2 separate regions of the Homo sapiens genome follow, and region 2 is linked to region 1. The links come from fine-mapping of genetic effects on gene expression. A gene starts in region 1. The other region holds a variant in brackets. All regions are shown on one strand. Distances are from middle to middle.

Region 1 (4,540 bases):
TGCCAAACTTAGCCCCTGCAGATTTAAAGTTAAAGATCATACATCCTCTGTAATTTCATCTCAAAACTGAGCAAATAAGAGATCTAACACGAGAAGCGATAGCTAGTGAAGTGTGCATTGCAGATCATGCAAAGGTACTCTAAGTCTTACTATTCATTTAGCTCCGGGGATAGGGGGTCTTCATTTGACAGACCTGATCTTCACAAGAGTTTCCCAAAAGTTCACAGAGCAGCAGTGTTAAAGAAGAAACTATTACCATCAATCAGAGGGAGAAACCACCAGGAATAACTGCTTTATTCTCACAGTTACATATTCTACACATTTTGTTCTAAGTTGAATACAGAAGAACAAAATTTTAAAACAAACAATCCTTCATCTCCACAATTTTGGTTTAAATAATTCCTTTTAAAATGTTCCCGGAAGCTACTTCTAAACAGAGTAATGGGGTGGAGGTTAAGGGGAGAAGGGACCACTGCTGTTCTCCTAAGAGATCATTTCATTCACTTCCATCATGTTTTAACAAAAAGATAAAAATAACTTCAAATATCCTCCTGAGCGCTTCCTACTATGAAATATTGTGCCTGTTCACCTCTATCCTTATTTGCTCCGGTTGCATGAGTTAGGTATTAAACCTGTCAATAAGCTTGGAAACTGACAAACAAGGTCAAAAAGACAAGCGAATTGAATAAATTCAATTAATGTTTATGAAAAGTAGTACAAGATTGTCTAAAGGTGTTGGGGGGGGCATAAAAAACTAATATTTCTAATGTTCCCACCAGTGCCCATCATCTCCTGTACAAAGCTCCCACTATTCAGAGATCTAAGTATGCTTTCAGTCCATCCACATTTCCTTGCCAAAACACACACTACACTACACTACACATAGTCTAACAGTCTGTATCTGTTAGACTGCTAGTATAGCAACTGAATCCCGGCAGCACACGGAAGTATGCTGTAATGAAGTGTCCTGTAATCAAAGAGTGCAACGTGTCAGTCGGCTTGGGAGTTTCTGGAGCACCAGCAACTACAGCAAATCATCACTCTCCAACATGTGGGCCATAAAATCTGAGTTGGGGGCGGAGGTGTCCCTTTTCTTGTTTTTCCTCCACTTTTTTTTTTAATGTGGGGGCGGGGAGGACTCGAAAGTAGACTCGATAATGAGGTCCACTCCAAGATAGATACGGAACTCTTAGCAACCTAGATTCCCTTGGGATAGGATGCTACTTTGAAGGCAAGAGGAGTAAGTTTCATTCTCTGTAACCTCACTTCTTGACACTCAGGATAGTCATTGTTTGTCTACGGAAAAGGCTACCTGCCCTCAAATTCCTTTGCCTCGTTCCTAATTACAAGTTCCCTCTGGGGTTGGTAAATTAGAAAATCAGCAAAAGGGCCAAAGGCTGGTCAGTGCCCCCTGAAATTGGCAAGCGCTTGCAATGAGGGTTGCCCCACCTTTCCAAGACTCACAAATTAGTTCTGAAGTGGGAGCCGCGGTGGAGCCGGCAGAGGTGCAGCACTTACCCCCATTCACCCCTATGGACGGCTCCAGTTTAGCTCCAGCGATCGCCAGCACTATTCCGACCATGAACCAGTCTTTCCTCATTCTCTCCAGCAGCCTCATATTTGTTAGGGTGGGTGGGTTTTGTTTATTTGTTTGGCTTTTTTTCTTTTCAAGCTCCGATCACCTAATCCTTGGAGCGTCTCCACACTTTCCTTGGTCCCTCCAGACATGCAGCAGAGCAAGTCAAATTGCCGATTGTAAAGTAAAGACCTGGGGGTTGCTCCGGCGGCTTTGAGGAGGGTTGGGAGTAGTAGTAGCCAGTGACAGGAAAGTCTCACTGAGCGCCGCCATCACTACCACGCGCCTCAGAATACACGCGCACAAACGCCCCCAGCGCCTCTGGCCGCGGGCTCGCAGGTGCAGATGCTTTGAAATGAAGAACTCGGACCAGGCCGACAACGTGGGCGATCCGGCAAGGGAGGCTGGCCGCCGGATGGGGCTGACAAGCGCACCGCTGTCGAGACCTGCGGAACCTTCTGAATGACGAGGGGTCGGGGAGAGCGTCGTAAGGCGCCACAGCCAGCAAGCCTCACTGACTGTCCTTTTCTAACAAACCTTTAGGCACAGCCACCCACCCTTCTGGAGCATATCTCCATGGAGAGCCTCTCTTTTGCTGTGCCATGACTCCGCGGGCAGGGCTGACGTGTGCTTGGGGCAAGGGATTTCTCCGTTGAAGCTGCGGCAGCGGGGTGCAAGTTTGGAGACGCGCTTCTTCGGGACATTACGGCGCTTCCACGACGCTAGCGCTGACGTATGCGCGGGGGGGAGGGGAGGCCACTCTGGATCTCCGAGTTCCCAGCCTGAGCTGCCGGAGTTAGAGGTGTCCGCGCGGGAAAGTGGCTCGCTGGTGGGCGGGGAGCCTTATCTCTGGCGGTGGGTTGAAAATCCGGCGCCGGGCAGATGCCCACGTTCGCTGGACCCCTGCTTGCCGGCGTCCGCTACAACCCAAGGAAGGTGGGCCCGACCTCGCCAGGTCGCTCGCCTGCGGGTGGGCATTTGGTCCGGATCCCCTTCCCTCTGCGGCCCACACCTGTCTCCGGGACTGGGGAGGGCTGCAGGGATCGGGGCAGATCTGCCTTTGCGGGCCGAGAGTGACAGCTGAAGTCTCCCCACCAACTAAGCTACTCGCGGGCGGAGTGGGGTCTGCGCTGGCAAGCCCCTGGGCGCGCGGGTGCCCGCTCTGGCTCGCCCCCAGGGCTGACCTACCCAAGCCACAGGAAAACTCTGGGAAGAGGGTCGCGGATTCCAACGCGGAAGTGGTGGGGGATTGAGTCTGAGAGGTTGGGGAGTCCTACCTTCCATTGCCACGAGTGCTAGTTCTATCTGCCAGTTTCTTCCTTGAAATGTCTTGTGGCAACCAGTGACATTGATGGTTTCATGAATGGACTTCCTACCGGTAGACCCTGCAAGAGCATGAACTCCACTGTATCATTCATCCAAATGAAGAAAGAAAGAAAATAGTATGTGATATTTTGAAATAACCTGGCATCTGCCACTTAAATGGTTAAAAATAGAACTTAAGGTTTGGAAGAGATTGTTTCGTGATGACAGACTTTAATTCTGAATTTATTCAAAGCTGGAAAGACACTCGTCGTGTCATTTCCTCTATTTAATTTAGCTTTATCTTGATGGCAAGACTTCCAGAAACTAAGCCACTTTAAGAGTTGTGCTCCCAGTTGTAGGTTACACAGTACCAAGTGTCATCTAATTATACATCAGGCAACATGAAAAAAAATTAATTTCAAGATAAAAAGAACTTAACAGGGAGACATAGATGACATTAAGCAGTTTACTCTGAAAAGAGACAGGTACATGAAATATAAAATTTGATGTTAGTTGTCAGGCAGTCAGAAGATAAGTGAAGATAAATGAAAGATAGTTTACAACATAATTATTTTCTTATAGTAATTTCTTAGTAGGTTAAAGAGTCATACGTCTCAGTCATTGAAGGGATAGTTTTGTATTAAAACATCATTAAACATTAAGTTTACAGAAATTGAGCTGTTTTAACTGTACAGCTATTCACAAATTATTTACTAATACCTCTTTGATCTGTGTAGAGCAGAATCTAACTCAGAGATTTTTTTGTTCTGTTTTTAATGGTACTTAAAGGAAAAGAATATAATGTACCATGAATTATATTCTCTTAAGGCCTGTATTTGTTTGCTGTGGATGCTGAAACAAATACTCGAACTTGGATGCCTTCAAACAACAGAAATTTATTATCTCACAGTTCTGGAGGACAGAAGTCCAAAATCAAGATTTTGGCAGAGCCATACTCCCGCTGAAGGCTCTAGGGGAGAGTCCTTCCTTGCCTTTTCTAGTTTCTGGTGGTGCCTTCCTTGGCTTGTAGCTAGAGTGTTCCAATCTCTGCCACTGTTTTCACATCACATTCCCCTCTGTATTTCTTTCTAGTGGCCACATTATTCTAGTTTCTGCATCCATCTTCACGTTGCACCTCCTTTTCTGTGTATCTTTTATAAAGACACTTGTCATTGGATTTAGGGCCTACCCAGATAATCCAAAATGATCTCTCAAGAGCCTTAACTCAATCACAGTAGTCCCCCCTTATCCTGAAAGGATACATTCCAAGAACCTTAGGTAGATGCCTGAAACTGCTGGTTGTACTGAACCCTATCTATATATGCTATGGTATTTTTTCTTATACATACATTCCTATGATGATAATTTTTGGTTTATATTATTAGGCACAATAAGAGATGAACAATAATTAATACAGTCAGGCATTGCTTAACCACCGGGTTACATTCTGAGAAATGTATGGTTAGACGATTTCATCATTAGAGAAACATCATAGAGTGTACTTACACAAACCTAAATAATGTAGTGTACAACACACCTAGACTATATGGTATAGCCTATTGTTCCTAGGCTGCAAACCTATACAGCATGTTACTATACTGAATACTGTAGGCAGTTGCAACACAGTGGTATTTGTGTATCTAAACATATCTAAACATA
Region 2 (4,000 bases), 69 kb before region 1:
TTCTCAAACTACCCAAAAAAAAACTGAAGAGGAAGGAATCCTTCCTAATTCATTCTATGAGGTCAGCATTACCCTGATACCAAACCAGACAAGGACACAACACAAAAAGAAAACTACAGGCTAATATCCCTGATGAACACAGATGCAAAAATCCTCAACAACATCCTAGCAAATGGAATCCAACAGCACATCAAAACAATAGTACACCATGATCAACTGGGATTTATCCTAGGGATGCAAGGATGGTTCAACACATGCAAATCAATACATGTGGCACACCACATCAATAGAATGAGGGACAAAAACCACATGATTACCTCAATAGATGCAGAAAATGCATTTCATAAAATTCGACATCTCTTCATGATAAAAATTCTCAACAAATTAGGTATAGAAGTTACACACCTTAGATAGAAGTTACACACCTTAAGATAAGACAAAAGAAAAGCTAGGGATTTCCATGCAGCAAAGTTCTGGCCAATGAGATAAAAAGTGATATATGCTTGATGGTGGGGGCTTAGGGAGGGAGGTTAGTTTCTGGTACTGACACTTCTTCCTGCCGAGAGCAGCAAAAGCTATCTTGCATCCATAAGAGCACTGGAGAGATAGCCACTCTAATGTCACTGAGCCGCAGAATAAACGCCAGCAGCCTCTACCTCCAGGCATCTTGGTATATGAGAAAAATAAGTCCCTCCTTGCTAAAGCCACTTTTAGTCTAATTTTCTGGTACTTGAAGCCTGACACCACCATGTTCCTAAACAAGGAAAAAATAATAAAGGACTACTCCGGCAGATCAGATAAATAAAAAACTATTTCCTCTAAAATATGAGCTTGAGTAGGCACATTAAATCTTATTTAGTATAATCTCTTGTTCCTATTGCATATGACATCATTGAAAATAAGGAAGAGAAAACTGACTATTGGCCACAATTGTTGGAGGTCAAAGCTAAATTGCCTTACCCTAGAAAAGTTCTTCAACTATGTGAATTTATATCCCATCAGGCTTTGATTCGCAGGAAGGAGAAACAGCCTTAATATTTATTTTCTCCCTAAGCATAGATTCAGTTTTAAAAACACATGAAGACTAAAACATCAAAGACTGAATTCCAATACTTGATCTTCAATTAAATATGAAAACACAAAACATTTTCATTCTATCTGTAAGGCACTTTCTAAAGTGCTATAAAAAGTCAAAAAAATAAGAAATATTTATTGCTTCTTTCAAAGCCAATTATGATTGACTTTCTCTTATGCAACTTAGTTGCTAGTTTTACTATTGACTACTTAATTACCACTATTTTCACTGAAGAGCCCTCATTACAAGAAAAATTTGAATTCTACATTTCTATGTCATATTTAAGTATTACTACAACATACCACAGAAAAGTAAACATATTCAGGATATCAATCAAAATGCGGATTTATACACTACGCTCAATATTAAGAGGGCACTTTTAATGTGATACCATTTTTATATATATCATTGTATTTTTTAAGTACCATTACTTAAATTACTGAATATTACTTAAACCATTACTGAATATTTTCTCTCAACAAAGAAAGCTAAATGAAGACTTAATACTGCTGCAAAGCATTCACCAATTTAAAGAAAGATTAATTTTAATTCTTTGTTTTAAAATATTACAGGAATTAACAGAAGTATGTATACTATATACAGATATAGATTTATAGATATATACAATGTGTGTGTGT[GTA/G]TATATATATATATAAATATACAATCTTCAAGTTAAGAGTGAATGTTTGACATGAGGAGCAAGCTACATTTCTTGCCTATTTCTACAGGTTCATTTCTTGACACCAGTGGAAAAAATTATTTAATATTCTAAATCTTGAGGTGAATAGGGGGTTGCTATCCTTGTTTGTAACTATTCATCTCAATTCAGGTAAGGAAAAAAATATATTCAAGTTACTGTTTTCTGGGTGCTAAATTGAATCAGGTGTCCTCTCCTCTTAAGAAAATTAAGTTGCTTTTGTGCAAGAGTGTTTTAATGAGAACAGAGCCGGCCGACAGTGATAAATGGGAATGACACCAGAGAGAGCACATAAGCAGGACAATATGTGCATGTTACAGTCTTACAGCCTATTTTTCACTGACTATTCTGAATGACTTCTCTGTTTCTTAAGGGGCCTATTAATCTCAAATTTAGTTATTGCACAACGTTTATTTGAACATATATTCTGTGGATGATGACAGTTAATAAAGGAAATCTTTCACAAGCTGTATTTTTACATATTGTTCCAACTACAGCTCTCAGTCATTTGATGGTATTGATGGAATAACCTACATTGTGCTGAGGCTTTTTTTAAAAAGGCACATATATTCAGATTCCTTTCTAAGCACATGGGGACTCTTAAATAACCGTTAAAACGCATACAAAAAATTCTAGTACAAAACAGTAAAAGTAAAAGGACATCTTAACTGTTCAACAAAAATCATTTAATGTGCAAACTGACCCTTCTAAGACAAAACAGACACCTTTTAACACTTTTAAAGCCCTGGTACACAATATGCAATAGTTCGTGCATACCAATCTACATTTTCACAATATGCATGGGGCAAGAGAGGAAGGGCAAAATCAATTTTCCTGAGGTGCAAAAACAATGAAGTAACATAGCTGCTTTGATTTCTCTTTGGTATGCTTTTTTGATGAAATGTCATGTACTTAAAATAGTGATGATTCTGTATTTCTTATTTCTAGTAGAATACTTTTTAAGAGCTTAAAAGAATTGTTTCAACATTTTCCTAAAAACATAATTATCAGTTCAAATAAGCTCATCAATTCAGATTGTTGTTCTAGTTCTGGGAAGAAATTTGTTACTTTAAGGGTTACAGGTTCACAATAACAATACCTAATATTAGCAAGAAATATTTAATTCAAGATTTTAAAATCTGCCTTATAATTGAGGTGAAATTAAACTTAATCAAACATTTTGATTGCATCCTCCTGAAATCTCAGTCTTCAAAGGTGTTCAATTTCTATAAAATCAGAATTTTTAAGTGGGAGAGGCCATTAAATACTATGACAATCCCTTTGTTAATCAAGAAACAGAACTCCAGACAGGCAAAGGATCTTTTCCAAGGTCATACTGGACAGCAGTAAAGCCAGAATAGAATTCATCTCCAGACATCTCTTGCACCCTCTCTATTACATCCACACTGTCTGTTTTATATATTATTTTTAACAGACATTTGCAGATATATCATGGAAAAAGGGCATATGCTGAAACACTAATGGTTATGTTGGGGTAAATGGAATTATGAATATTTTTTCCTTTGTGCTTCTCCTAGAATTATGTTAAGAATTTTAGAGGCTCTCTCTTTAATCTTTAGGCAAACTTTGAACAATGCTGTGCACATATTAGATGCTCAATGTCTGACTAAAAATTGAATGAATTGAAGATAATACCAAAAGGAAACTACTTAAAAGTAGTTAAAAGACTAAACTACTTAGTCTTCTTTGCTATGCTAACACTGAATATTCACAGGAACAAACCATGGGTATAACCCAGAATACCAACACTTAAATTGAAAATACTATTTATTTATACTATTTATCCATTAATAGCTTATTGATAAATATCTAAGATTTTTATTGTAAATCTCTAAGATTAAGCTGAATGAAACTTACTTAAAATGTTATATACTATTTGATATTATATCTTTTAAAAAATCAATTTCTCAGTATTCCTCAAGTTTAATTCTTCTTAATCCTTTGGGTTTCCTATCTCTTCCAGAAAAGAATAAAACAAATGCTTCTCTAATTATTCATTCCTTCAACCTAAATTTATTAAGCAAACACAAAAATAAATACCATAGAGTACCAACTCACAGTCTAGGGCTAGAAGACAGACATCATAATAACTACAATACAAGAAGATCAATGGTATCAAAGAGTTATGGCAGCACAGAAATTAACTTTAAAATGGGCTTTTCCAATATCTCCTAGTGAAATACAACAAGCACTTTTCTGATCAATTA

Direction of the effects. Positions count from the first base shown, and alleles are read on the strand shown. Sizes are in standard deviations (SD) of each study's normalised expression.
In carriers of allele G in region 2, the expression in iPS cells of the gene that starts at base 1,841 in region 1 tends to be higher than with GTA alone (moderate effect, 0.71 SD a copy in iPSCORE).

Evidence for each region. PIP is the estimated chance that this variant, and not a neighbour inherited with it, causes the effect.
Region 2: its variant is the best candidate, but not a certain one, in a credible set for the expression of SLC10A7 in iPS cells (iPSCORE, PIP 0.52).

Annotation. Positions count from the first base shown.
Region 1 is chr4:146,520,100-146,524,639 of GRCh38, forward strand. SLC10A7 (solute carrier family 10 member 7) reads right to left here and starts at 1,841. Exons shown (of 12, transcript NM_001029998.6): 1 at 1,519-1,841. The coding sequence starts at 1,618. RefSeq lists enhancers at 969-1,198, 1,639-1,708, 1,929-2,008, 2,019-2,438, 2,609-2,688.
Region 2 is chr4:146,451,322-146,455,321 of GRCh38, forward strand. The region is part of intron 4 of SLC10A7 (solute carrier family 10 member 7); the gene reads right to left. Among named protein-coding and RNA genes, the nearest start is that of MIR7849, 45 kb to the left of the region's middle. The variant GTA/G (reference allele first, on the strand shown) is at 1,714.